Linked DNA regions of Homo sapiens. The protein of the gene in region 2 purifies or fractionates together with the protein of the main gene of each other region. This does not show direct contact. Each region holds a gene or a part of one and is shown on either strand. Other genes may lie near its edges.

What was found.
Region 1: the proteins of ZBBX (region 2) and SORL1 purify together in Homo sapiens (affinity purification with mass spectrometry; 2 studies listed by BioGRID and IntAct, with this or other methods). This does not show direct contact.
Region 3: the proteins of ZBBX (region 2) and LRP4 purify together in Homo sapiens (affinity purification with mass spectrometry; 2 studies listed by BioGRID and IntAct, with this or other methods). This does not show direct contact.
Region 4: the proteins of ZBBX (region 2) and HERC1 purify together in Homo sapiens (affinity purification with mass spectrometry; 2 studies listed by BioGRID and IntAct, with this or other methods). This does not show direct contact.

Annotation. Positions count from the first base shown.
Region 1 is NC_000011.10:121,447,578-121,455,335, forward strand, and holds the start of SORL1 (sortilin-related receptor preproprotein), read left to right. Parts: upstream 1-4,736; 5' UTR 4,737-4,754; coding exon 4,755-5,039; intron 5,040-5,097; exon of another isoform or gene 5,098-5,390; intron 5,391-7,758. UniProt on the Homo sapiens protein: Sorting receptor that directs several proteins to their correct location within the cell. Along with AP-1 complex, involved Golgi apparatus - endosome sorting.
Region 2 is NC_000003.12:167,377,279-167,384,571, forward strand, and holds the start of ZBBX (zinc finger B-box domain-containing protein 1), read right to left. Parts: upstream 3,020-7,293; 5' UTR 2,969-3,019; intron 2,515-2,968; 5' UTR 2,360-2,514; intron 1-2,359.
Region 3 is NC_000011.10:46,873,545-46,880,567, forward strand, and holds part of LRP4 (low-density lipoprotein receptor-related protein 4 precursor), read right to left. Parts: intron 5,772-7,023; coding exon 5,582-5,771; intron 5,495-5,581; coding exon 5,363-5,494; intron 3,796-5,362; coding exon 3,655-3,795; intron 3,287-3,654; coding exon 3,200-3,286; intron 3,094-3,199; coding exon 2,922-3,093; intron 2,423-2,921; coding exon 2,260-2,422; intron 2,138-2,259; coding exon 1,912-2,137; intron 1,560-1,911; coding exon 1,256-1,559; intron 873-1,255; exon of another isoform or gene 50-872; coding exon 1-49. UniProt on the Homo sapiens protein: Mediates SOST-dependent inhibition of bone formation. Functions as a specific facilitator of SOST-mediated inhibition of Wnt signaling.
Region 4 is NC_000015.10:63,634,942-63,641,964, reverse strand, and holds part of HERC1 (probable E3 ubiquitin-protein ligase HERC1), read left to right. Parts: intron 1-321; coding exon 322-495; intron 496-1,519; coding exon 1,520-1,813; intron 1,814-3,188; coding exon 3,189-3,254; intron 3,255-3,428; coding exon 3,429-3,554; intron 3,555-4,321; coding exon 4,322-4,460; intron 4,461-5,822; coding exon 5,823-6,004; intron 6,005-7,023. UniProt on the Homo sapiens protein: Involved in membrane trafficking via some guanine nucleotide exchange factor (GEF) activity and its ability to bind clathrin. Acts as a GEF for Arf and Rab, by exchanging bound GDP for free GTP.

The DNA.
Region 1 (7,758 bases), on a different chromosome or scaffold from region 2:
GCTGGGATTAAGGGCATAAGTCACTGTGCCTGTCTGAGGGACCTTCTAAAACTTGCGCTCTCTCACAGGTTTTGAAACACATTGGAAACCAAATCCCTCGCTAAATTCATCTCCTAGAAAAGTATAGAAAACAGGACTGGACTTGTGAGCTTTGTAACTGTAACATTACTGCTAACTTGTCCCAATCAGGGCGTGAGGGTCAAGCAGATACAGCATCTCACCTAGGCTAGGTACCTAGGAAGGGAGACAGTGCTGGTTAAGGCAGGGCTGAGTTGTGAAGGAGGTGAGGCCTACAGCCACTCCCTTTCCTTCTTTCTGCCCTAATTCCCGCTGTTCCACTATACCCAGGACTTGAAATACCAGCTCTTCTCTTCCTAAGAGAGGTATCAGATGTGGCAGAAAAAGGGAGCCTGGGTTCAAATTTATCCCTTACTAACAGTAAGTTAGCAAGCCTGTTTAACTTTAGGCAAAGCAAATAGTCTTCCTTTCTGAATTTCAATGCTTAAGGTCTGTAAAATGGGGGTGACAATAATTCTCGCTTTGGCCCACTTCAAAGGGTTGCTGTGCGATGGAATGAGATAGATAATGCTGTTATAATGTTATGCAAATGTAAATCACTGCTATGCAAAATAACTTACTGCTATTTCCAGAAACTCCTCTTTGGATTTAATTTAATCAAGAGTGAGAATATAAGTTACTTATTCTATGCTCTGGGTGCATTTGTATTTTAAACCTCATCAATTATCTTGGACGCTTTCCTAACTGAAGTAGATTTTGGCAACAGCAGGAGAAGGAGTTATTTCTTTGGGGGCAGGCGGGTATTTCTATTTTGCCTGAGCTGGTGAGGTCAATGGTAGTTATTTGGCCAAAGTAACATGGAAGAGGGAACAATGTTTACCATCCTAAGGGCAGGGAAGTCCCTTTTCTGCTTTAATGACTCTGGTCTGGTTGCGTGACTCAGAGAGGCCTGCTTTGGGGGAGAAAACGAGGTGGGAAGCAGATGGTGGTAAGAAAAGATCTGAGATTCAACTACATTGGCCCCTTAACCAACCATTGCCACCAGGACAAAGGTGGTGTCACTTCTCACCTTCATTTAAATGCATGCATCCTATAAATATCATTGAGTGCCACCATGTGCCAAGAGTATGCTGGGCACTGGGCGTCTAGACTTGAATGAGATAGACTGGTTTTGTCATTCTGCTGCTTGTAGATTAAGAGGAAGATGGAGATTAAGCAAGTGACCAGAGAGGAAGTATCAAAGGCTACAGGGGACTAGAGCCTTAGAGTGAGGGCTGTAACCTAGCCTAGGTGCCTAAGGAGGCTGCTCTGAAACCTGAAGGCTGAATAGAAGTTGGCCAGCCAGGAGGTGAGCATGTGAGAAGGCCACAGGAAGAGAAAGAACAGAAAGAAGTCAAATTAGGCTTTGGGGAGTTTTTTCCTCTTCGTGGCTGTCCTTGCTGCTATTTTAAACATGACTCCACCTGGATAAAAATGTAGGACACTGTGACCTCTGTGTGTTTGTCCTCTACCTCCATCTCCAGTGGCCTAAGATGGGCAGTAGGACAGAGGAGGGCAGTTTAAAGTCTGACAACAGGCTTAAGACTGTTTTATACACAGCTGTGAGTCTATCATTACATTTCCGTGCATGTTGATTTTCGTCATGATGCTGGGCAGCATCCGAGCAAGGCCATGCAAGATGGGACAGAGGGGGATATGGTACTGTCTTCCATCCTGCACCCCAACTTTGATGTTACTTCAGAGGGATAGAGGAAGTGGTAGCTTGTTTACAACCCAGAGCTGGTTTTGAAGCTGAGAGGAACACCTCACTCATATTGCACGATTCAGCTCTAACTCCTGTCCTGGGTGACCTTGCCTGTGGCTGCTCCTATCTCACAACCCAGTGGGGGTCCTGAAGGTTTGGGAGTGGTCAGGGCTGAAAGGTGTCTTTTCATTTAACTTATGAAGAAATCGTAAGAGACAAGATGATCAAGACAAAAAATTACATAATAATTTGGTTGCAAAGCCAGGACTAGAATCTATGTTTCTAATGCCACCTGCATGCACTATTTCTCTCTGGAGGCCTTCACACAAATTTGCACAGCTATTTTATATACTTACCTCATCTGATACTCTCAGCAGTCCTGTGAGATTGGTAGGGATTAAGATCTCTATTTTACAGATGAGAAAACTGAAGCTCTGAGGAGGTTTGGCCAAGTCCCCACAGCTAGAAAGTCAACCTTCTGACTCAGAATTCAGCGTGTCTTCCACTGCGTTCTGTAGTTGTGCAGCAGGCACAGTCTTGGGGGGTTGCTGATTATCTACCTGAGAATGGTTTGGAATGTAGATAATGATTAGATAGGAGGGCTTGCAAGGAGTTAATTAACCATGTTTGAATATTCTTACCAATTCTCTAGCATTCAAGTTGCAAATCAACATCAAAATGAGCAAGTAGCTGGCCCTGCCCTACTAGTCCTTCTGTGCAAGGGGCCATCTGAACCTTAAGCCAGCAGTTTGTGTGGGCAAACAGATGCCCATCTTCAAATCCACACTTAGGAGACTCCTGTCTCTGTTTTCTGCTGGGACTCTGACACTTGCTCTTGCAGAGAAGGTTCTCATTAAATATATGTTGGAAAAACCCCAATAATTGAATCATCTACAGGATGTTCTCACTTTAGCCATATTCCCTTCATTTTCCTTTGAGGGCTAAATGGGAGTAGAGATATCTTTGCTGCTGGTCCTGAGAGACCATGGGGTTGTCCATTCCTGGTAAGGTGATGCTGACCAGACAGAGCTGATCTAGATGAGGGGTGGGAGGTGACAGTGGTTCAGTGGCTTTCTTGGAGGATGCATGATTGTTTGAATTATTATTTTTAATTGACATATATAAGTATATAATAAATATATATGTTATATATATGAGTTAGAGCTGAATTGCACAATATGAGCAAGGCGTTCCTCTCAGCTTCAAAACCAGCTCTGGGTTGTAAACAAGCTACCACTTCCTCAATCCCTCTGAAATAACATCAAAGTTGGGGTGCAGGATGAAGGCACCCCAATAATACCACACTGGGGAAAGTGTGGTATTTTGATACCTGTATACAATGTATAATGAACAAAGCAGGGTGGTTAACATAGAGAATGCATGATTTGCTTGGTGGGGAGAACTGGATGGTTCTGTAATTATGTTGAGATGGACAGAAAGACATCATCTGACTTGGGGAGAAAATCGGGTGTGGGAGGAGGTGGGAGAGTGCAGAACCTGAGGCAGAGGTCCCCAGCAAGTCTGGCATGGGGTAGGGTAGGGTGGTTGAATACTGGCTTCAGGGAGATGAGGCAAGCTGGCCTGACTCTGGCAGGTTGTCAGTGGTAGTCCTAGGTAGAGGAGGGGGCTTTGCTAAGCTACCTGAAAAGTACTAGAGTGGGCCGGGGTAGGAATCGGGCTACCGTGGCTTGTCGGAGATGAGGAATGTTTTTAGAAAATTGAACTGACCATCCCTTCCTTCCCCTGAACAGCAGCTTGTATGCAACTATAAAGGTAGTCTCCCTTTCAGCCCTGCTTGCTGTGTCTTTATTCTTATCAAAAACCAGGATCTGAGTTCAGAGGGCAGTGAAACATAAAATGAAATAGGAAAGGTTGCAGTAGTACATAGACTTTGGCTGCTCCCACTAACCTGCAAAAAAAATATTTTCCTTGGGCGTACCTTAGCAGTTCCATGGCAGAAGTTTTATCTCCTGTGGTTCAGAGAGTTTGGCTCGTCAAGCTGAATGTAGGGTTAAAGTGTGTCCTCCCTCCTCTGTGGGTGTTTGCCTAGCTCCTGGCTGTGGGTTGAAGGGACTGGTAAATATGTCTATTTTACTGCTGAGGCAGGGTGGCTCAGTGCTTGGTCACCTTGGAGGGATCATAAGCAAGCCGCCGCTGGGGCCCTGTGCCACGCACAGGTATTCATGCGTGCGTGCAAGCACACCCTGTATAGCTGTGTAATAATTGTCCAGGTGTGGTGCATTCTTTGTCAGATGTACCCTTGTTTTTACTGCCTCTGTGCAGGATGTTTATTTGCTGTGCTTCAGGCTGGGGCACGTAGCTTGATCAAGGGTAGTTTTTGCTGTGGCCCCTGCAAATACGTTGTGGTGCCCAGAGTAGATGAAAAACTGTGAGTTTCCCAATAGAGCGGGTTCATCTGGACTCTTGTTGGTTGCGTTCTAGGAGCTAATTCTGTGGCTCTGGACTCTTCCCTGGAGGTGGGGATGAGGCCGGGGCCGGGGGGAGGTGGTCTTGTGGCGCTACTGCGGGCTGTGCACTCAGGAAAGTGGCCACGGTTTAGGACGACCTCGACACGACCCTGTATAGGACGCAACTAACTCCAGAGAAAACGAGCGAGCCCCATGCAACTCTTCATTCCTGCAGGGAGAACAAGGAGGTGTGCCCGCCAGGGAAGGGACGCACCCCCACCGGCGCTCGCTGCCTTAACTTCCCCATCCCCGCGCCAGGGAGGGGCCGGAGTCGCCGCCGAGGCCGCCGAGCGCAGAAAGTGCGCGAAAGGGACGCGCTGCGAGCCTCACACGTGACGGCGCCGCGCCGAACCGAGCGGGACCTGGCGGCAGCGGCGGCGGGCGCAGCGGGGCGGCCCGGAGCGGCGCGGGCGGCCTGGAGCCCCGGGAGCGGCGCGCGCGGTCCCGGCCCAGCGGCTCTCCTGGCCTCGCGCTGCACATTCTCTCCTGGCGGCGGCGCCACCTGCAGTAGCGTTCGCCCGAACATGGCGACACGGAGCAGCAGGAGGGAGTCGCGACTCCCGTTCCTATTCACCCTGGTCGCACTGCTGCCGCCCGGAGCTCTCTGCGAAGTCTGGACGCAGAGGCTGCACGGCGGCAGCGCGCCCTTGCCCCAGGACCGGGGCTTCCTCGTGGTGCAGGGCGACCCGCGCGAGCTGCGGCTGTGGGCGCGCGGGGATGCCAGGGGGGCGAGCCGCGCGGACGAGAAGCCGCTCCGGAGGAAACGGAGCGCTGCCCTGCAGCCCGAGCCCATCAAGGTGTACGGACAGGTGAGCAGTTTTGCAACCCGCCTCCCTCCAGTTTTTTCCTCTCCCTGCACTTCCTCACCCCCGCATCCATCCGTTGCAGTCGCCTCCTAGGTGCAGGCACCACTGGGGACTTCCCGGCTTGCATTTGTTTTTTTCCTTCACGAGTACAACCGTCAGCACTTGAATCGCATTGATCTTTCCTTCTTCCTGTCGATTTAGTAAACGTATTCCAGGTAACTCGCCGGGTGCAGTGCGTATTACCCCAGGGTGTGTGCAGAGAGATGTAGTTTCCGGCAGGTATAGGAGGGGTGCAGCTTCATTTTACATCTGGATAAAAAACGGGCTTTCTTTAGTGTATCATCAGTTGGCAGTGGAGGCGAGCACCCTGCAGTTGCGGTACACTTACACAGAACAGCACGAGGTGGGGGTTTCCACACTTAGCATTATTAGCACAATAAAAGTGGGCAAACCTGAAAGCTTGTCGACTATCTCTGTACAGTCAGACAAGAGGTGTGTGTATGTGTGTGCGTGTGTAAAGGCTGAATTTTTAATTTTTAATTTTTGGCGAGCGTGTGAGATGCTCTCCATTCCTTCTTCCCCACCCTTCAAGATGCTGACTCTCCCACCCCCGTCAAGATAACTTTATTTTGGAGAGGAATACCCCTCATGGCACTTGGAGATTTGAAAGGACTGCAGGAAATTTGGTGGGCATTATTATTCTATAAGTGATTTATTTCTACCCAGGCAATAGGTTTATTAGATCATAAGTAACGTGAATTTCACTTTTATGGTCAGACTTACTGCGAGGAATTGCAGATGGAGTTTGTAGGTTAGGATCAGCACTGGCAAAATTAATTTGACCGTGTTATTGCCTCATGAGACTCCCAGTCCTGCAGTTAAGATTGACATCAGCAAAAGTATAAGGTCGGTGGGGGAGAAAAAGTAGGACCAGAGGAGGGGGTAAATACACTTGTTTTCTAGAGTCAAATTGTTCCTTTTGAAGTAGAAATTATTAATAAAAGATTACCCTGAGTTCTGCCTTTTCTCACTAATTTCACTTTAGCCATTTCTTCAGGAAATACAGAGTTAAATGTTCAACCCTTGGATCCAGGACGAACCTTGTAAACATATCACCCTATTGTGTCATTTTGTTGGTGAAGAAACTGAAGCGTGGAATGGTGAAGTGACTAGTCCAAGGTCATACCGGGAAGGTGGCCTGCTCTCTAGTTTTTGTCTGCATTGTCTCAGTGACCTTTGCTTGACTGCAGTCACCCTGTCTTTATGCAATGCTGCTGAAATACCTCCTTTCTAAAATAAAATAGATCTGGTATAAAGGGGGAAAGGATGGTGGTGACTGGGTGGGAGCGTTGGATTTCCCTCCACTATTGGTCCCTGGGCAAGAATGTGTGCCCCAGGGCATGTAACTAATGGTGGCCACAGGCTGCAGGAACCTGCATGCTCAGTTCCTCTTGGGCCCAGATCCTTGTCCCCCTGTCCCCACCCCATATGACAAATATGTGTATGAACAAAAAGAAGTCATCAAGGTCCTTGCTCTTAACAGCGACACCAGCATGGGGCTGATGGAGGGTGGGAGAAGGAGGAGGAGTGGCCCACTTCTTCATTGGGCCTCCGCAGTCAGCCCAGCTCTGCTGTGCTCTTGAATCAGCATTCTGGGAACTGGGAGTTGGGGGCTGGTGGGAGACAATCCCTCCCAGTGCTCAGGTCCCCTGAAGCTATAGTTTAGGTTGAGGAAAAAGTTTTCTGGTTTCAAAAATATGTGTACATGTGCCATTTCTTTCTTGGGTTTGGTTTATGAAAAGCTCCAGGGGATGTGGGGCAGGTTGGACATGAACTCTGTTCTCACTGGGAGTGACTCCCAAACCCTGGGCTTTTGAGTTTCTGGGCCAGCCAGATTGAGTTTGGTTCAGCTGAAGGATGGAGAACTAGCAGTCAAACTCATAATGAGGAATTCCTAACCGGAGGGTGAGGGTACAAGGGTGAGATTTTTCTTCTCTGTGGCTGCCTTCCTATGCCATTGTTGCCTCTTGCTCTGAGGTTAATAAGAAGTGGAATTAATTTGAATCTGTAAGGATTTGAGTCAGATAAAAGGAAGAACTTCCCTGTACTGGGCTTTCTGCCACAAGTTCTATCTGGTGCAGACCCTTCAGAATGCAAGCACAGGTTGGTGACTGAAGGGGTTTGAGGTGCCCCTCTTGGAACTCTGGAGTAACTAACATCTATTTGGAATGATCTTTCTAGCAAGGATGACCATTGCCTCTGTGTTTCCCTGGGGCAGACCTGGTTTCTAAGTTGTCTCTGGTGGTTATGAATAGCACCCCCTTCACTCTCAAAAGTGTCAAGATGTGACAATAAATTATATGGTCCTACTTTTAGCCTTAAGCCAAGTTCCACTTTGTAATCACGACTTTCCCCTTCAACGTTTAAACCTAAGGAATGGTGATGTTTTCCAACAGTACTGCTTGACTTGAGTGTGGTTCTATGGAGGTGCAGTGAGCTGGGGAATAAAATTTCATTCCTGCTTTTAGGAAATTTACAATTTAAGGAGGAGAGCAAGCAGATGCAGATACAGGCATGTCAATGTACCAGGATGGGAACCAGGAAACATGGTCACAAGAAACCAGCCACAACTCTACAATGGTGTGATAACGGGCTGTGTGACATGCAGCGCATGGGAGATGGAGAGATAAGGGGTGGTGGGCTCAGACACTGTCCAGCTTCT
Region 2 (7,293 bases):
GTAGAAACTCAGAGCATTCAGCCAGAGGTGCAAGAGAACACCATTGGCAGAATGGGAGGTTTGGGAAACCACTGTTTACAAGATGGGCCACTTTTTGTAACTGAAAACTTATCTAAGTTTAGTTAATTCTTCTAATGACTCAGATCATGCTAGGCACAAGACTTAAAAACCATACCATAAATAGGGATTTTCCCTTACTGTAGCAATATTTTGAAATGGTCTAATTAGCAAACAACTTTGGGTGAATTAACATGTTTAGGCATTTAGTACCATAGTACTTAGAAATCAGAGACCCAAGAAAGAAATGTTAAATGAGAATTTAAAATAGTTGCTTTTAATAATTAAAAGAATTTTACTTTTCACATTTCTTCTATCTGTAATTATCCTTATTTTAAATATATATATTTTTTAAAATATTTAAAAAATTATAAGGCAAGAACTGATAATACATGATTTCTAGAATAGTATCTTGTGCTGGAGTGTCCTACTAAATAAATGTGTGCCACATTCTCATAGCAAAAGCTCTAAAAGTAAAGCAGGTATTGATATAGTTTGGCTGTGTCTCCACCCAAATCTCATCTTGAATTGTAATCCCCATAATTCCCACATGTGGTGGGAGGGCCCTGGTAGGAGATAATTGAATCATGGGGACAGTTTCCCCCACGCTATTTTCGTGATAGTAAGTTCTCATGAGATCTGATGGTTTTATAAGGGCTATCCCCTTTCACTTAGCTGTCATCCTTCTCTTTCCTGCCACCATGTGAAGAAGGATGTGTTTGCTTTCCTTTCTGCCATGATTATAAGTTTCCTGAGGCCTCCCCAGCCCTGCAGAACTGTGAATCAAACCTCTTTCCTTTGTAAATAACCCAGTCTTGGGTATTTCTTCATAGCAGTGTGAGAATGGACTAATATAGGTATTGACTTCAGGTTGCATTCAATCTTTCAGCCAAACAAGATATCTGATAGTAAAATACTGCTTCAAGGTGCTAAATGGTACCCAAGTTGCCCATTTTTTATGCTCTATAGGCAGGTTCTCTTGAGAACAACTGAGAAACTTTGCCTTTAGATATCAAGGGACAAGATACCATTTTAAAATACTTTTGATTAAAAATAATAAACAATATTAAAAGGCACTGAATTTAAGGTCAGAAAACCTAGGTAGACTAAATTCACTGGATTTAAAGTCATAAGATCTTTGTGTGATAGAAATCTCTGAGCTTCAGCTTATCCATGTAGAAAATGGTAAGGATCCTCTCCCCCTCTAATTTGCAGGATATTAAACAAAAGGTGTCTGATTTGTGACTTGACTTGTCAAGCTGTGGGCTTCTATAAGACCTCCAGAGAGCTCACGGTTCAGGGAAAGGGGCAGCCTTAGAAACTACCTAGAGAAGGCACAGCCTTAGAAACTACCTAGAGAAGAAAATGGAGCATCAAGATTGTGCTTTACCCTTAGCATCTCTGCTTTCATCTTTTTTACATAATGAGCTTTAGTGTTTACCTCTCTGCTCACCAAGTTTTATTCTACTCAATGCTCAATTCGAAGGCTGCCTGTATCATGAAGATTCCCTCCATCGAAACCGAGCTTCTCCTTGTATAGAAAGACCATGTTTATTAAACTCATTTGCTATTGTATGTTACCTTGTGTTATTTTTTGCATCTTTGTTTATATAGATTTTGTTTCCCTAAGTAGCCCAAATATTTGAGAGTGGTCCTACCATTGACCTTTGAAACCCCAGCAATCAATACAGTCCCTATACATAATGTAGTGCCAATAATAATGTGCTAAGTATGTAATTTTTTTTCTACTGCTTTTAGTTTTTTGCACAACCTACCCTACGGAAAAAATTAAACACGCCCTCTTTCCCACTTCAACTAAACTTTTTGTTTTCTTTTTTCCATGTTTCCTAACGATCTTGATGAGCAATCAACAAATATACATTGAACACTCTCTCCCTGCCAGGTGTCAGGTTAAGCACTGAGGATCAAGGTCAACCAGACAGGTATAATACCAGTCTTCACTGAACTTACACTCTGGTGAAGGAAGTAGGTAAAAATTAAAAAGCGAATAAAATAATTGCAAGAATTATTAAGTGTCTTGAAAGACATAAAGGAACTACTTTCAAACAATTCATTTGTAATACAATTGGTAAAATTATGACAGGTCAGGGCAGCCCTCTGTGTAGACTATAAGATAAGCTAAATTGGAGAAAGGCAGAGGGAGTCATTACATTTGCATAAGCATACAGTTTGTATAATTTTAATCCTGTGTAGTTTCAACTTTACTATATTTTTTAATGAGCCTTGTTAACTTTAGATTTTAAGTCAAGCTATAAAATATATATAACTGAACCTTACATACCTGAGTCCCTCTACTGCTGATTTTGGGAAGAAAAAATAAACTTCCACATCTTCAGATTTCTCAGGAATCGGGCACCCCGCACCATAGCCCTTACTTGTGAGGAGTAGACTTCAAGAAGTAAGTGGGTGCATGTGAACGCGCAGGCAGACTAAAGGCTACAAAAGGGGATGAAATATGGTTTCTCAGGGTGCCAAATTTTTCATAAGGTGCAAATGACTTCAAAGGATAAAAGGGGCTAGTATTTGAAAGGGTCGGGCTGCAGAAGGGGTACAACTGATGAAGTCCCCAATTTCACTGTCTGGGGTTCACTCTTGATTCATTTATCCATTAGCATTTTGGGCTGGGAAGTCTTTGGTGTATACCAAAGGCTTTCAACTCCTGAGGCCAGGGCCCCGTCCTGCTGCCTGCAGGCCTGGCACTATGTCAGCCTATGGCAGGGGCTCAGCAAACACTTGCTGGGCCGGTGCCTCCAGCTCCACCCGAGCTGAGTCTGCTTCCCAGCCGCGCTGCCCGCTCTGCTCCCCGCACCAACTAGCCCGGGCTTGCTGCCCGCTAGGCGGACTCAGAGACCATCCTCCCCTCTCATCCACCCGCAGACAGACAACCCACCTGGAGACCCCAGCCTCTCGCGTCACCACCGCCGGATGGCCGCGGATAGCTGCCGGGAGTTTCCGTCTTGGTCTCCTTGGTTACCGCGTTACCTCGGTACCCATAGCAACCAGAAAGCTGGGTTCTGCCACTGTCCGCCGGCAGAGGGCGAAAAGGAGCCTGCGAAATGAGAGAGAATGGTGATCACAGGAAGGAAAAGGGCGGAAAAACTCAACAGGCTCTGGAAGCTTTCCGCCAGAGAGGATCTTGGAGATTATGTATGTGCTAAACCTGAGCATGTGTCATATTCCAAGCACAAGTGAGAGACTTATATGTCATATTTGATTCTTCCTCATAGCAAGCCAGCTTAAATCTAAAAAAATTAAGGCACAAAAAATTTGACTATCTTAATCCAAAATTACAAAGCTAGCAAATGGCAGACCTACAAATTAATTCAAGGAGTTTAGTCTCAGAACTCCCACATTTATGCTATGTTTAAATGATTTATCAATGGCTACCATAGGCAAAGTCAATAGAGATTCCAGGTCTCTTCAAAAGTCCAGAACTCTCTTTTCTTTGTACCGAATACATGACCCGTGGAGTCTAATGGGTATAAAACAAAAAGCAAAAGCAAATATATGCACACACACACACACACACACACACACACACACACACACAGTTAACCCACAATTCTCAACTCAACTCTTCCGAACAAAGCTGCACCTGTAGTGAATTTATCTTTGGCTTCCTAAATATGCTGTTTTTTATCTCCCTTTTTAAATACTGCAAGTAGGATGTGTGGTTGGTACTGCACTGTATAGGCTTCTATGCTTAACCACATTGCATCTGTCTCGGTACCAGACTAACAATCCTAACTATTACAGTTAATGTACTAATCTTTACACCATTACTTTTGACATTACTATGCCTGCCAATACCCATTTAAAAAAAAATAATGATTTCACTTGGCATATTCAATTATATAAGATTACAACCACTATGGATAAGAGAAGACAATGGTAGTCTTCTGGTTATAAGTCTGGATTTTGGAGTCAGGCAGATTCAAGATTGAGTGCCAGTACTGCCACAACTTACCTGCTGTGTGACCATGAGCAAGTAACAATGCTCAGTCTAACTGCTTAAATGAGATAACAGTACAGTTAGTCCATACGTAATGTAGTATGGAAGAGTAAATGAAACAATAAATATTAAGTATTTAGCTCTAAGCCAGGCCCATATTGAGTGCTTAATAAACAGTAAGAAACAGTGGTGCTGGTGTGGCTATGATGGTTGCTATTAACGTGTTCATGGTATAACTTTACCACGTCCTTCCTTTAACTTTAATACAAGAACTAGTTTCAGGTGGATGTGCGATACTACTGGTTTTCTTGCACAGACTATTTCCCATACAGGCGCGCTCTTCAAATTACCAAAGATATTTTCAGCTTTCGTCCATTTACTGATCTATTCATTTATTTATTTATTCCACAAATATTTATTGAAAGTCCATTTCCTAGATCCCAAAAATACTGGAGTGAAGAAATCGTCAAAGCCCCTCCTATTTTCAAATATATTTTAACAGGAGCAGAAAGGCAATAAACAAGTATAAATGCATGTCAGCTGCTATGAAGAAAACTAAAGCCAAATAAAGAAATAGAAACTAATTGAGTTCTGTTTTAGGGTAGATGGCCAGGGAAGTATCTGAATGCAAGGAAAGAGAAAGACATGGGCCACTAGAGGAAGAAACAGTCCAGAGAGAACAGTAAACACATGTCAATTATGTCCCAGTAAAGATTATTTTGCAAATAACTTCTCCTCACTTCTACAAAGGACTTTTACTCCAAAAAATGATTCTTACAATGCATTTACTTACACAATAGTAAAATTAAACTCATAAAAATAATGTATAAAGTATTCTTGCACTTTTTGAAAGCATTAAAAGAACATTATCTTATATTTAGAAAAATAGCTTATGCACAGTTATGAAAAGGCAAAGCAGAGACAAAAACTAAGCCTATGCTAAGTCACATAGTAAAATAAAAAGTATGAAGTGCTTGTCTTTCAGAATGATGATTAGTGACAAAATGAAATGAAACATGTCAAAACAATTACAGCTCTAGAGAGATGATATTCTCTCCACTGAAGTAAAATGCGTTTAACTGGCACACCAGCAATGCCGCACACAGTTTACCACAACTATATCAAGAGCACAGTATTCCTGAGGGTTTTTCCAAACTCATGCTTCTTTGTGCCACAGTGGAGACAAGGTTTGAATACAAGTTTTCTGAACTGGAGATATTCAATTTAAAGAGATAAAAATTACCGGCAATGCAGAAATTAAGAGCACAGATTTACATGACTCATTTTACTAAGCTTGAAATAAGGGTCAGGGACTGTAAACAAGCATTATCCAAAACTTAGAAATAAGGTAAAGCCAAAAACAGCATGTCTTTTCAATGCCATACTAGAATACTGTTTAAGATAATCTGAGCATTACATGATTTTCTAAAAAAAAGTGTTGCTTTTCTTATCATTAACTATTGATAAAGTCTCTGTGTAATGTTGTATGTTTATTTGAAGATTTTTTCACCTGCATTTTTCATATCATTTGTATCTGGATATGTAAATAATGTCTTTCCTTTAAATAAAATAATTTCAAAGCTAATGGTTTTATTGCACTATACAACTTTAACCAGTTTTGTATCTAACCTAGAAATCTCATACTAATATTTTATCTCAATTCCTATATACAGTCAGCTACCAAATTTTCTTTGAACCAGCTTTACCATTCTAATAATTCCGTCCTTAATGAATTAAACTGTATCACATGTATATTCTCTACTTAAAGAATATCTTGTTTTTAAGTATTGCAATTATATTTTGATAATACCAAACCTTTGGAAGAAAATGGGACAAATATCATATCTGCAGCTTTCCAGAAGTATTCTCTCAATTTCCATTTGCTCTTTGGCCCTTCAGATTCTTTTATAGGCAAAAGTTTGTGGGCATTTCAAGGTAGCAAAACCAAATTCCTACCATCTCCTTTTTTACAAGCCCTGAAATGTGGTTTTACTTTTACATGAAGCATCTACTTTCTTTATGCCTTGGTAAATGCTAAATATAACATCCTATTACATATGTATGGGGTTTTTCAACTTGTCAAGAAAACTGAGCTTTAGAGACAACATAAAATTACAAAAAATCCTTAGCAAAAACCAAATTAGTATGATATAAATATATTTAAATGCATCCGAATGGCTAAACTTGAGGAAGAATAAAAAGAAACTTAGAGTTAAGAGGTGACATTGGCCTTTTATAATTTTTCTCGGCTTTGTAATTTCTGCCTATCATCCATGACACAGAATTTCTAAGCAAATAAATTTTCATAACACAAGGCAATTATTACTGATGCTTCACAAATGGAGGAGAATCATCAGGGCCTATGATAAATTTTCGATTCCTGCAATGTGCAGTGTCTTCCAAATTGAAAAATAAATGTATAGCCTTGTTGAATGAGCATAGTTAAATTTAATCAACATTTATTCAACACCTGTTCTATTCCAGGCACGGCCCTAAGATAGGTACAAAGGTGAACAAAGACACCGTCTCTGTCCTTGAGTAATTCAAGTGAGAGTTTGCAACTAATTAATATGTAATGTATTAAGTACTACGTTCAAAAAGAATGGGAGCATTACATGTTTGTGGCATGGGCAGAATTTCTAGTTGGTTCAAACATAGTATATGTGGCAAAAAGATAAGAATGAAAAGTTGTGCTAGGAGCACATTAAAAAGCACTTTGAATGTTACCCTATTCACAATGGAAACTGTGAAATTTTCTTTTCTTCTCTCCTCTTAATACCCTCAAATAATTTTTAAAGCAGATCTTTAAGCATCTCAGTATGTGTATAGCCGCATCTTTCAAGGGTAATTCTGGTGGCAATGTAAAAATAGAGCAAGTGGAAAAGAGGAGGACAAGAGACACTTTTAAAATATGGTTATATTAGTCCAAGATAGAAATAATAAGTCTTGAATAAATCAAGGCAGAGGGCAGAGGCCAAGTGAAACAGTTTCAAAGGATTTTGTAAACTCTCAATAGGGCTTGGAAAGTACAGATACATGGTTAGCTAGGAATATGGAACAGAGCTGCTTGTCTCTACATTTGATAGCTTGGTAAATAAGTAGATGGTACTGATAACCAGCCGTGGAAGAGCAAGAGAATAAATAAGCTCACAGAGAGTGGGGTCAAGAAGGCAGGGCAGACTGAGTTTTTACTTTTGCAATAGCAGTAGGGAGGAATACAAAAATATGACATAGCTCTAGTTACTTAGGAGACAACCATATAT
Region 3 (7,023 bases), on a different chromosome or scaffold from region 2:
CCCTCGCCCGATCACTGTCTCCATGTTGCTGCCGTTCAGGTCTGCTCGCCTTGGGGAGAGCCCAGTGTTGGATGAGCAACCAGACTGACCCAGAATAGAGTAGAACTTTAACCCATGTTCCCATAACTGGACCCCACTGAACTGTAAGCTCCACAGGGATAGAGACCAGGTATCTATGAGTACATTCCTCAGCACCCAGCATGATAGATGTTCAATAAAATAATTGCAGAATGAAGGAACCAGTTCTTAGGAGGACACAGTATTTCCTGCTAACTGGACATAGTGGCGGTTGCCAGGGGATGTCTTGCTAGAAGACAAGTTTATCATTCCCCACATACCTTTGGGAAGAGACAAGGATTGCTAGGTGGTGATGATAAGAAACGCAGATTTGTCAAAACCAACCTGTGCATTTTTTAAAAGTTAAAAACAATTTTAAATACAAGTAGATATGAGGTTTCATTATGTTGCCTAGGCTGGTCTTGAACTCCTGGGCTCAAGCAATCTTCCCGCCTTGGCCTCCCAAAGTGCTGGGATTATAGGCGCGAGCTACCACGCCAGACCCTAATTGTGCACTTTTGCAAAGGCCCTATGGGCAGGAGGGAACTCTACCTCAGAATGGGGAGCATGTCACTGTCACCTAGGGGACTTCCCTAAACTGTATATGCCTACCTGTCCCCAGTTTGAGATTCTAATACATCCCTTGGGGAGAGCAAAGGGGAATGTTCCCTGTTCCTCCATGTGAGAATATCTGCCATGGTAAACCACTCTTACTGGTGGCAGGACATCATATTCCTAAGCTGTGTTAGGGCCACAAATTTAAAGACTAAAAATAAAACAACGAAAAAATAAAAAACAACAGCTTTGTAAACCACCATAAGACTTGGCATTTGATTGGGGCTCCTTTACTGCAATACAGATACTGGTTATATGGCCTACTCATCAGTAAGTCCTAGGGGATTCTTGGAGCTCCCTCAGGGCACAATGGTAGATGTGAAAGTCTCCAGGTCCCCTGACTTTACCTGTTTTTTTTGTTGTTGTTGTTTGTTTTACATACTAGGCTTCCATATAATCTCTAAACAAATGAAAGTTTGAAACTCTGCTGTAAGTGACAACACTACAAAGTGAACAAGTCAGGATTAAAACTCACTATCCAAAGTGCCAAATCACTCATCCATTTAGTGGTCAGAACACAACCTCACCCATGGGCGACCAGAAGCAAATCTGTGTCTTCTGGAGGTTTCAGTGTTGCTCATACCTGATAACATCCAGGAACACATCTGTGTAATAGACCTTTCCATCCACGCTGTCATAGTCCAGGGAGATGACATTGTTGAGCTCAGGAACAGGGACATGCACATCGGTGTGGTCACTGGTGTCCAGTGAGATACGCCGGATGGAGCCACGGCTGGAGAAGAGCAGGTAGGTCTCAGGAGAGGGATCACAGGTCTTCCCATCTCCCTTCAGCTGGATGCCAGTGGGGCAGGCACAGGAGAAGCCAGAAGGCCGAGGCAAGCAGAGGTGGGAGCAGCCGCCATTTCTCGAGCCGCACTTGTTAAAACCTGGTGATGAGAAGCACAAGTATTCACACCTAGCCTGGAACATCATCTGAATCTTACAAAGGTCCCAGTTGTTTGTGGCTGGCTCTTTGCTGTTCTAAGTGACAGGATTCAGTGCCTGGCAGGGTGAGGTAGAAGGAGGGTCTGCAGGAGGATCTCCAGGAGTCCTTTGAAGGTGACAGCTGTAGTACCAGCCATACCCAGAGAGAACACAGCCCAATCTGGAAGGGAGCTTAAACAGGTCACCGTCTTTCTGGCTGTAAAGGAGCTCTGTGCTCTGGATATATCTCTGATGTTGAGATGGCCCCAGAAAGCCAGAGGCTCTGACTCACAGCCCCAGCCCTCTGACTCTCACCTAGTGGCTGTGCCCGGTCCACAGCCTGCATGTCCATGAGGCCTGGCAGGTTGGACCTCACGAGGATGACATTGCTGCCAGTACCCTTGTCAGCACGGTGGATGCTCCGAGTCTGCCAGTCAGTCCAGTAGATATAGGAGTCGAGCAGGGTGAGGCCATATGGGTGCTGCACCGGTGACACCAATGTATGCCGATTGGCACCATTCAGGTCAGCAGCCTCAATTCGCTGCAGAGGAAGGAGAGGGTGGGGGGTGGTGATCAGCAGATTGGGAACTCTCCATGGAGATCCTAGGCAGGCCTTTCCCATCTTCCCAGGCTCCTGGGAAGCAGCAGGGACACGGCTCTCACCTCGGTGTGGGCATCGGCCCATAGCAGTTGGGAGCTGGCCTTGTCCACAGTCAGTCCATTGGGCCATCCTAGGTTGTTGTTGATGAGCACCGCGCGGTCTGAGCCATCCATTCCGGACCGCTCTAACTTGGCATTCTCCCCCCAGTCTGTCCAGTACATAAACCTGAGTGAGGAAGAATATTAGCTATATTAGCTAGTTATTCCAGCAGCTACCACATACCATGAATACTTAACAGTATGTCAGATACACTTGAGTACTTACAGTATGTCAGGCAAAATTTTTGCTTGACAAAGTACTTTGCAAAATACTTCATGTGCATTATCTCAACCTTCATAAGGGCCACAAGGTATGTATTTTCACTACCACCTCCATTTAATAGGTAAGGAAGCTGAGAATTAGAGAGGTTAAATACCGGACCCAAGTGATATAGCTAATACATGATGAAAACATTTCAATCCTGGTATTCTGATTCAAGGCTCATGCTTTTAACTTCTACACTGTACTGTCACCCTGCGAGAAGTCACAAGAGAGTGGAAGAGCCCCAGGGAGGTCACCTTGTTTCTGTGATGCAAGCTTCCTCTCCACTACCCACCTTTACCCCGTCATAACCCCAGCTGAGCTGGCCCCCCACACTACCCAGTGCGATACAGCCAGCTCTCACCCCATCTCATGGTACAGTACGATGGCCCGGGGACTGTCAAGGTTCTGCCACACCAACACTTTCCGCATGGACCCGTCCAGGTTGCCCACTTCAATCCGGTTTGTTCCCGTGTCTGTCCAGTATACTTTCCGGCCAATGGCATCAACCGCGAGCCCATCTGTGGTCTGTAGCCCTGTGGGAAGTCAAAAGAGCACACTGGCTCCTATTTTAAAACAGATGGGCTATTTCCCCAGCCCTGTTGCCAGACAGGTGGTCCCTGGGCTAGGAGGAAGGCCCACCTGTGGTGATGATGTCCTCATGCTGTGAGCCATCCAGATTGGCACGACTGATCCTGTGCAGTGTGCTGTCAGACCAGTACACCTTTCCTGGAGAGGGAAAGCTTGGCTCAACCTAGACCCTCACCGCCTACAATGGGACACACACAGCTGATTCATGTCTTGAAACACCAGAGCATGTCAGAGAGCTCTGGAGCCTCTAGCAGAGGAAATCAAGGAAAACGCAGAAATATCATAGCAGGATAGCTCTTGGCAGAGACGGAGAGAAGAGGGCCCCAAACCATGCTCTCACAACCAAAGAGAGAGTGCTAGAGAGACAGGGACAGGGGCTATGCCAGAGGGAATGGGGAACAAACACCCTGGCTCTTGGCAGGAGACAAAGGTGGTGGGAGAGGAAAGACAGTAATTGTTGAAGGGCAGGGACAGAAGGCCAGGTGGGAAGAGAGGGCCATACAGACCTTCCTGGGGGTCTACTCCAATGGCAATGGTGTTCTTCATGGTAATGTTGATTGGTACCACCACATCAGCAAAATAAGGGATGTCCAGGGAGACCATGCGAATGTCTATCCTCCTGGCGAAGATGAGGAAACTGTTCATGCCTGCCAGGTGGAGAGGAGGGAAGAGGATCACTCGAGCACAGCCATTAAATGGATTTGGAATCAGGCAAACTGAAACTCATGCCCTGTCCCTGCTAGTTTCTAGCTATGTTATTCTAGGCAAGTTATTTAAATTATTATTATTTTTTGAGACAGGGTCTTGCTGTGTCGCCCAGGCTGGAGTGCACTGGCATGATCATGGCTTACTGCAGCCTTGACCTCCTGAGCTCAAGCGATCCTCCCACCTCAGCCCCCTGAGTAGCTGGGACTACAGGCACACACCACCATGCCCAGCTAATTTTTGTATTTTTTTGTAGAGATGGGGTTTCGTCATATTGCCCAGGCTGGTCTGAAACTCCTGGGCTCAAGCCTCTGCCCACCTCAGCCTCCTAAAGTGCTGGGATTACAGGCATGAGCCACTACTCTCAGCTTAAATTATTAGGCCTCAGTTTTCTTATCTATAAAATGGGGACAATAATGGGGTGGCTGTAAGGGTTAAAAGATCATGTACATAAAGCACTTACCATTAGGTCTCACACATATTCATAAATAATGCCTCTTTATTAATATTATGAAAGTGGCTCTCTTTGAAGGACCCTTTACCATGAAGATTAAGAAAGAGAAAAAAAGAAAGGGAATAAAGGGACCCCAGGGGGCTTTACTCACAACCTGAGAGGCACAGTTCACAGCTCCTTTCTCACTCAAATTCCCAGGGAGGTTAGAGTTCAAATGCAGCCTACCCTGCAGCATCTCCTAGGGAGAAGCCTTGACTTCCGACATCTGGGTAGCCAGGTACTGCTTCTGGGACCCTCCAATAAGGTTGTCACATAGGTTGTGCACTCACAAAAGTGGCACATCTAAGGAGGAGGGTACTGTGACATTGTAGATATCATACATTTCTGTTTTTATTATACCAATTTTGGGCAGTTAGAAGTGTCTTTTTTTTTTTTTTTTTTTTTTTGAGACAGAGTCTCACTCTGTCACCCAGGCTGGAGTGCAGTGGCGTGATCTCTGCTCACTGCAACCTTCACCTCCCAGGTTCAAGCAATTCTTCTGCCTTAGCCTCCCAAGTAGCTGGGATTACGCGCCACCATGCCTGGCTAATTTTTGTATTTTCAGTAGAGACGAGGTTTCACCATGTTGGCCAGGTTGGTCTTGAACTCCTGACCTCTAGTGATTTGCCTGCCTTGGCCTCCCAAAGTGCTAGGATTACAGGCATGAGCCACCGTGCCCAGCCAGAAGTGTCTTATTCCAACCAAATCAGTATATTATGACAATGTACTAAGAGATGAGAGGAAAGTGTCTTGAGAAAGGAGCATCTTTATCTAATATGCATGAAGACATCATAAGAACTAGTTGGACCCTGCCTCCAGTCCTTTCTACTTGCTCCCCAGGGCCTCTCCCCAGGCCCGTCCCCTTTTCTAAAAGCCGTGAGTCTCTCCCCTGGGCCTCTAGAAGCAGCAGGACTCATGGTTTCTCAGACCACATTGGAGCCCATCTGCAAGGAAGGAAGAGAGCCATTGCCCCCTCCCAGAGAGGCTGCATCTAGATCTGTGATGCTTTCACTCACCTGGTGAGCAGGTCTTGCCATCAGACAGCAGGTTGATGCCTGTGGGGCAGGTACAGCTGAATCCGCTTGGATTTGGGGACCTAAGACACAGGTGGCTACAGCCGCCATTCTCCATAGCACATGGTGTAGACACTGGGTAGAGAGGAGGGGATGTTCAATGGGGAGAGCTAGGGCATAGGAGGGCCACGGAGAAGCCAATGCGAGCCAAGGGCTGCTCACCTGGGGGCCGGCGGCGGTGGAAGACATGGATGTCCATTAGGTTTTCCAGGTTCTCCTGCAGAGTCTCCCGGTCCAGCCCTGTCAGCCGGTCAGCGCTCTGTATGCTCTTGGTCTGCCAGTCAGTCCAATAGATGCGCTCTCCATAGAGGGTCAGCCCAAATGGGTGGGGGAGCTGGCTTCCAATCAGCACCTGCCAGGGCCCCAACACTGTGTCATCTTCAACAAAGTCTGACAGTACAGAGCAGTGGCAAAGAGCTCACTGTGGACTCAGAAAGCAGCTCTCCCACTAACACCTACTGGGTGACCTCCAGTAAGAGCTACTTATAAAATCTCTCTGAGCCTTGCTCTATCAATCTGTGACTTGATCATGCCTGGCTCTAAGGGTCGTGTGATGGTTTTATTGGAAGATGTTGGAAGTCATCTATTACTCACATCATCTCAAAGTATCTCTGGACAAATTACTTATTAAGTACAAAATTAAAAAATAGCAACTTTACAGTGGACACTACCTTAACCATACAATGGCAGTAAGTATCACAATAACGGAACAGGCCAACACCTGTGTCTACTGATGAGACACACTGAGAACTCAAGGACATGACTTCACTTAGTGTAGTATTCCTGCTGCAAATGCACACTCTGAATCCAATCACAAGGAAACATTAGATAAATCCAAGTTGAGAGACATTATAAAAAATAACTGGCCTTTACTCTTTAAAAATGCAAATGTCCACTTTGGGAGGTCCAGGTGGGCAGATCACCTGAGGTCAGGAGTTCGAGACTAGCCTGGCCAACATGGCGAAACCCTGTCTCTACTAAAAATACAAAAATTAGCTGGGCGTGGTAGCGGGTGCCTATAATCCCAGCTACTTGGGAGGCTGAGGCAGGAGAATTGCTTGAACCCGGGAGACAGAGATTGCAGTGAGCTGAGATCGCACCATTGCACGCCAGTCTGGGCGACAGAGCAAGACTCTTGTCTCAAAACAAAACAAACAAACAAAAAATGCAAATGTCAATAAAGTCACAGAAAAGCTGAGGAAATGTTCCAGATTAGAGAGTAAAGAGACTAGATTAGTTGGGCCCGGTGGCGCACAGCTCCAGCTACTCAGGAGCCTCAGATGGGAGGATCACCTGAGCCCAGGTCAGCATGGGCAACACACCAAGACTGCAGTCTCAAAAAAAAAAAAAAAAAAAGCTATGTGTGGTGGCTCATGCCTATAAACCCAACACTTTGGGAGGTCAAAGCAGGAGGATTGCTTGAGCCTAGGAGTTCAAGACTAGCCTAGACAACAAAGTGAGACCCCCATCTCTACAAAAAATAAAAAAATCAGCCGAGTGGCCTCAAACCCGTAGGCTCCTGAGTAGCTAGGGTGCAGTAGTAGGTGCCTGTGGTCCCAGCTACGTGGGAGGATCCCTTGGGCCAGGAGGTCGCAGTTACAGTG
Region 4 (7,023 bases), on a different chromosome or scaffold from region 2:
AGACATGACTTTTGAAATATAGTAGATGCCTTATTCTGCAGGTTCTGAAGAAATAGTTAATTATTGACATTTTTTCCTTAAAAAGTACCAGCTAATCAGAGGTAGTTCACAAATTTTATTATTTCTCATTATTTTTTACTTAGACAAAATTTAGGATATTTTGAAGTTCCATAGGCATTAAAAGCATAGCCTTTTTGGATATAAAATATCCAAAAAGCAAAGATGTCCCAGTTACTAGAAGGAATTTCGCAGATTAAATGGTGATAGCATTATTTTTTATTTAAACAAATTTATTATGTGGCATGATTTATTTTCAACCAGGATGTTTTGGTCGTGAATTGTACAGCAGAATGGGCAGCTGCCAATCATGTTTTGGCAACCTGTAGGACAGCATTGAAACAGCAGGGTGTTCTGGGATTGAACATGGCTCCCTGCATGAGAGCATTTTTGGAGCGGCTCCCCATGATGCTTCAGGAGCAGTATGCCTATGAAAAGGTAACTCATTACACTCACTCCTAGAGATACACAGATACCTGGTGCTTTGGAATGTGATTATAGCCTTGAACTTATCCCTTAAAAGCATGAGGTCTGAGGATAATAAGTGGGGCTATTTGGGCAGAATCAAATGAAGGTAAGTCATGCCTAAAAGAGTTGTTCAGCAACCCTAAGCCTATTCTTGCTTTATTTTCACCAGAGTAAAATAAAGAAACAAACACCAAGTTTGTATTACTGCTTTTCAGATTATTTATTCACTCCAAAGCTTCTTAAAATACCTATGCAGCAGAATATCTTCCCTTTTCTGACCCACACATATATCTATTTTTATATGGCTTGGCCATTCCAAAGTTGAGGGATAGGGATGGATGCGGGTATCAGACTGAATATCGTCTCCACTTATTAGATAAATCTTTGTGGAAAATTTAGTGGAAGAGCTATGTTGAATTGAGTAGGGTCATTAAATACTGGAATGAGGAATTGCAGCGTTTGAACTTGTCCAGACAGTGATCCTAAAGTAGCCTGTCTTCCAGCTTTTTGCTTTTCCTTTGATGGCTACCAGGATTCTCTTATAAAGGAGGAAAGTGAGAAGAGCAGATCTCTGTGGTTAAATAGTTACCTGCTTTTTTTTCCAATCAAGAAAAACCATGATGAAAATGTACTATATGCAGTGTGATAGCTTAGATTGGATCCTGGAGCAGAAAAGGAGTATTAATGGGAAAACTGAGGAAAACCAAATAAAGTTCTGTGGTTTAGTTAGTATTGTACCAATGTTAGTTTGTTAGTTTTGATAAATGTGCCAGGGTTGTATAAGATGTTAACATTGGATAAAGTTGGGCGAAGGGTATACAGAAATCCTCGGTACTATCTGTACAACTCACTCTAAATCTAAAATTATTTCCTAGCAAAAAGCTTAAACAGTAAACTTGAAAAATATGATTCCAGACTTTCAGACTACGGTAGGTTAATTTAGAATATTTGGCACAAACTCTTTGACATATTATATCCTTGTATTTTGTTTTAGCCTCATGTGGTTTGTGGTGACCAACTTGTTCATAGCCCCTATATGCAATGCTTGGCTTCCCTTGCTGTGGGACTTCATCTGGATCAGCTGTTGTGTAACCCTCCAGTGCCACCACACCACCAGAACTGTCTCCCTGACCCTGCATCCTGGAATCCAAATGAATGGGCCTGGTTAGAATGTTTCTCAACCACTATAAAAGCTGCCGAAGCCCTGACCAATGGAGCCCAGTTTCCAGAATCTTTTACCGTTCCAGATCTAGAACCTGTTCCAGAGGATGAACTTGTATTTCTAATGGTAAATGTACTGTGAGCTGCTATTATTTGCAGCTGAGATTTTATCATGGGTATTGGGCATGTAGCAGACCCCTAATAAGTCTTTGCTGGTATGCATGGCTAGAAGGATACCCTTAAGAGAAATGGAAAATATTTTTCTTTCAGATAGTCACTTTCAATCTGATGGCAGGCCTCCATAGTGACAGGAATTGATAATGTAAGCACTGTTGAACTCTTGTAAACCTGCCACCTCTCAATGACATAGTCCCATATTTTCTCATTTTCTTTTGTCCATAGGTACTTTGTTAGTGCTTTAGTTGTATATATCTTAGCATCTTTTCCTGGTCATCTTGTGGGTTATATGCCACATATAGATTCTAATTTATTTGGCATTTCAATCATGTCTTTAATTAGCATCAAATAAAATATAGAAGAGCATTCTAATTGTCATTTCATTCTGTTTGTATTTGAGAGTGTCTACTCTAGAAACTGTGACATAGATAAAATACCTGTTTAGACTACAGGACAGCACATGATCTAACAACCTCTTTGTATACTTAAGATTTATGTATACAAACATTTGGATAAACATTGATACAATATGAAACAGACAAATATAAATTAAGTAAAATTATGTAACTGTAGCTATGCATCACTTAATGATGGGGATATGTTCTGAGAAATGCATTGTTAGGCAATCTTGACGCTGGGAATATCATAGAGTGTATAGTACTTACACAAACCTAGATGATACAGCCTACTTGCAACAAGACTATACGGTATAGTCTGATTACTCCTAGGCTACAAACCTGTACAGAATATGACTGTATTCAATGCTCTAGGCATTTGTAACAGTGATAAGTATTTGTGTATGTAAACATAGAAGATATAATAAAAATAAGGTTTTATAATCTTAAGAGACCATCTTCACACATGCAGTTTGTTGTTGACTGAAATGTCACGTGGCACAAAAGTATACAATATTTTAATCAGAAAATGTCCTTCTAAGCCCATTTGGCCCAACTCTGTAATTTTGTAGATGAGGAAGCTGAAGCCCAGAAAGATGAAGTAATTTGCCCACAGCTACACAAAGAGTTTACAGGGGTGTGGGGTCCTCCACATGACCTTGTACCTGTGGGTGTTCAGAAAACACATGGCTAGCTTTGAATCACCAATGCCATAGTGATAGTGATAGTGAAAGTGTTTATAATAAAGGGAAATACTGACAGTGCATAAAATCAAGTTTGACATAATTATAAAACTGCTCTTAATTTATCATAATATTACCATATTCTTTTTTGGAAATAAGACTTAATGATTAGAAGAGGACTTTGTGGTTAAGAGCAGGTGCATCTTGCCTAAGCAGAATTGATCATTATGTACCCCCTGTTTTTCAGGATAACAGTAAATGGATTAACGGCATGGATGAACAAATTATGTCTTGGGCAACTTCCAGACCTGAGGTCAGTAAAGATGAAGATAACTGTATGATGGTTCTCAGTCAATGTTTTGATTCTAAATGCTTGTGTGTTTGTGCCCTGGTGTCTCCCATACAGGCTGGCACACACTTGGTACGTAGTACATGGCTGTTTGAGTGAATGGATGACTCTAATTTTGAGATGATTGTGGTTTTCTAGGACTGGCACCTGGGAGGTAAATGTGATGTCTACTTATGGGGTGCTGGTAGGCATGGACAGCTGGCAGAAGCTGGAAGAAATGTAATGGTACCTGCAGCAGCTCCCTCATTCTCACAGGCCCAACAGGTAACTAACAGGATAAAAAATAGAAAAGAAACATGGGAACTGAAAATTCTAATTCTTTTGCTTGTCTTATTGTGGGATAAAGCTTGTCCATTTCATAATCTATTATGAGGAATCATTAAAGAAAGTCATGATATATAGCTTTCAAATAAAAACTTGGTGTGGTTTTTATCAGACTTAAGAAGTTAACAAATTTCTAAATTTTTCTTTCAAGTTTAATGAACTAACATCATGATGTGTTAGGCCTGCCCAGTATGTATTTCTAGCAGTTTAGATACTCCTAATTAGTGATTTTCTCTTTGGGGCTAAAAACTTCCTAGGATCTTTAGCCAGATTTTATCGACCACTCCCCTTTTCTAATAATCCTGGTACGATATAGCGCCAAACCCTTCTCGAGGCCTCTGCTTTCTCTTTTGCTCTTCTTTACCTCAGCTAGTCCAGATTGCATGACTCATTCTTATGTACGAGTTTCTGCTTCTTTCTAGCCCAGTCTTTAATGTTTCCCCATCACCCCTTCCTTTTTCTTTCATCCATTTTGTTGTTCTAAACTATTTTAAATGGATGAATCTCATACATCTCTTGGTTAAATAAGCAGTTTTATAGTCATCAAGGAGTTACGGGACTGCATAGTTATATCAACTCTTCCCTTTCAGTAAAAGGATAAAACAATTATAAAAGCATTCTATGTATACGTGGAATCATTTCAAGTGCTTGCATGTTAAAGCAATATAATAAAGAATAAAATATTTAATTCTGTGTTTTTATACTAGGTCATTTGTGGTCAGAATTGTACCTTTGTCATCCAGGCCAATGGCACAGTGTTGGCTTGTGGGGAAGGAAGTTATGGCAGATTAGGACAAGGAAATTCAGATGACCTTCATGTGCTGACAGTTATTTCAGCCTTACAAGGTAAAATTGTCCTTAATAAAAAGATGGTTAGAACCTAAGGCCTAATGTAGGTTTGGTCGTACAAACCTTTGCCCTTCTCAAACCTTTGCTAGATAAAATCATATCAGGTTTTCACTTACATTTAAATCCTTATTTAGGCATGTGTGCAGCCTTAATTTCCATATTTTAAGCTATATTGCAGGTTACTTATAGCAATGCTAGAATTCAGTGAAATATAAATAACACTTTTTGAGACCCACTGAAGATTGTAAACAAATGCTTAAAAATTGCAAAAGTGTAAGTAGGCAGATGTTAATAGCAGTAGCAATCATGCATGTATTTCATTAAAATTAAAAATCAGTTTATATGGAAATCTGCAAATGTGCTAAAGACTTTAAAGGACATCTTCATCAGAGTTCTTTGTGACTTGGAGAGAGAACACCTTTGGAGAAACCACTGTACAAGCCCCCGGCTTGCTCATTAACTGAACTCATAATGACTCTGAAGCCTACAAAGAGAGCACCGACGGTTTTTTTAGGTAAAAGCATACAAGTAACTATGAGTTCAAAACAAGTTCCTAGAAGCTCAGGTTCTTTTCATTGTGATCTGAGTGTGAAGAGCACAGCAGTAAAGATGAGAATGTGTGCTGGGTTCCTATGGGTTCTACTGGTCCTTGGCTCTGGGACATTGCACAAGCTTCGAGACCTCTTTGTGACTCAGTTTTCCCACTTGTAAAAATGGGATGTTAGTATCTGTTTCATAGGTGCTATGTGAAAGTAGAAAATGAGATAATCCATGTAAAGCATTTATAGGAGTGGCTAGAGCATAGCCAGTCATTAATGACTGTAACTATTGCTGTCATCCTCGTTTTCCTTGTCATCACCATTATTTTAGGTGACTATTCGCAGTTTTGCTAGGTTATGGCTACAAATTCAATTTAAAACTAAAGAAATTAGGCCGGTTACTGTGGCTCATGCCTGTAAACCCAGCGCTTTGGGAGGCCGAGGTGGGCGGATCACTTGAGGTCAGGAGTTCATGACCAGCCTGGCCAGCATGGTAAAACCCTGTCTCTGTTAAAAATACAAAAATTAGCCAGATATGGTGGCACATGCCTGTAATCCCAGCTACTCAGGAGGCTGAGGCAAGAGAATCACTTGAACCGGGGAGGTGGAGGTTGCAGTGAGCCGAGATCACACCACTGCACTCCAGCCTGGATGACAGAGTGAGACTCCATCTAAAAAAAAAAAAAAAACTAATGAAATTATTCTTATTTTCATAGTACCAATTCGGTGGTTTTTGATTGAGGGTATTCAGTAGCAGCTGCAAGTAAAGAGGAGAGTTTTAACATCCAGTGACTCCTGTTGGGTTTCTGTTCTGTTCCAGGCTTTGTGGTGACCCAGCTGGTGACTTCCTGTGGTTCTGATGGGCACTCTATGGCCCTAACTGAAAGTGGTGAGGTCTTTAGCTGGGGAGATGGTGACTATGGTAAACTTGGCCATGGGAACAGCGACAGGCAGCGGCGGCCCAGGCAGATCGAGGCCTTACAAGGAGAAGAAGTGGTGCAGGTCAGGCAGGAAATGGATAAGTTTGCCTTTCATTGTAAATATACTAGTTGTTGAATAGGTTTCTTAAAATTAGGTAACAGAAAATATAGTAAAAATATATTACACAGTAATTATAAGAGATCCATTGGTTTTGGATGTTCAGATTCATTCTTGAGCTTGTCAGAAGTTTGAATAGGCTTTGGTGTTAGTATTGGTCTTGTTAGTATTGGTTAGAATGGTCTTTTTCGTGAGCCAGCTGGTTGGCCCAGACTAGGGTGCTGCACGCCCTTGGAAGGAATATTGTGTGGTTTAACTTCTGCCACACAGTTCTTAATACACAGATAAAAGGAAAACTTTGCTTTTAACCTATCATTTATGTTACAAAAGCTAAGTTAACATGCATTTTCTGGAAAATAGTGTTCTAAAATCATATTGTAAGATTGTATAGCACCTTATAGTTTACAAACAATTTCCCCATTTATTATCTCATTTAGTCTAGGTCATGTGTACACAGCTGAAGAGTAGCAGTAGTTACTCCAGGGTATGCTGTTCAGCTTGGGCTTCCTGAGGCTGTTGAGACAGATCAGACTTGGGAGAGCAGGAGAGCAACTTGGGCAGATAAATGTACCAGTTGGCCAGATGCAGTGGCTTATGCCTGTAATCCTAACACTTTGGGAGGCCAAGGCAAGAGGATTGCTTGAGGCCAGGAGTTTGAGACCAGCCTAGACAACATAGCAAGACCCTGTCTCTACAAAAAATAGAAATAAATAGCCAGGTGTGGTAGCACATGCCTGTAGTCCCAGCTACTTGGGAGGCTGAGGTGGGAGGATTGCTTGAGCCCAGGAGTTTGGGGCTGCAGTGAGCTGTGATCACACCACTGCACTCCAGCCTAGGTGACAGAGCAAGACACTGTCTCTTTAAAATTTAAAAAAAAATTAAAAAAAAAAATTTTTAAAAGCATTGGTCTTTGAAGATCCAGTTTTCAGTGAAGTTTATGTAAAGTTTATTGCTATATTAATACCAAAAATGGCAGATTTACT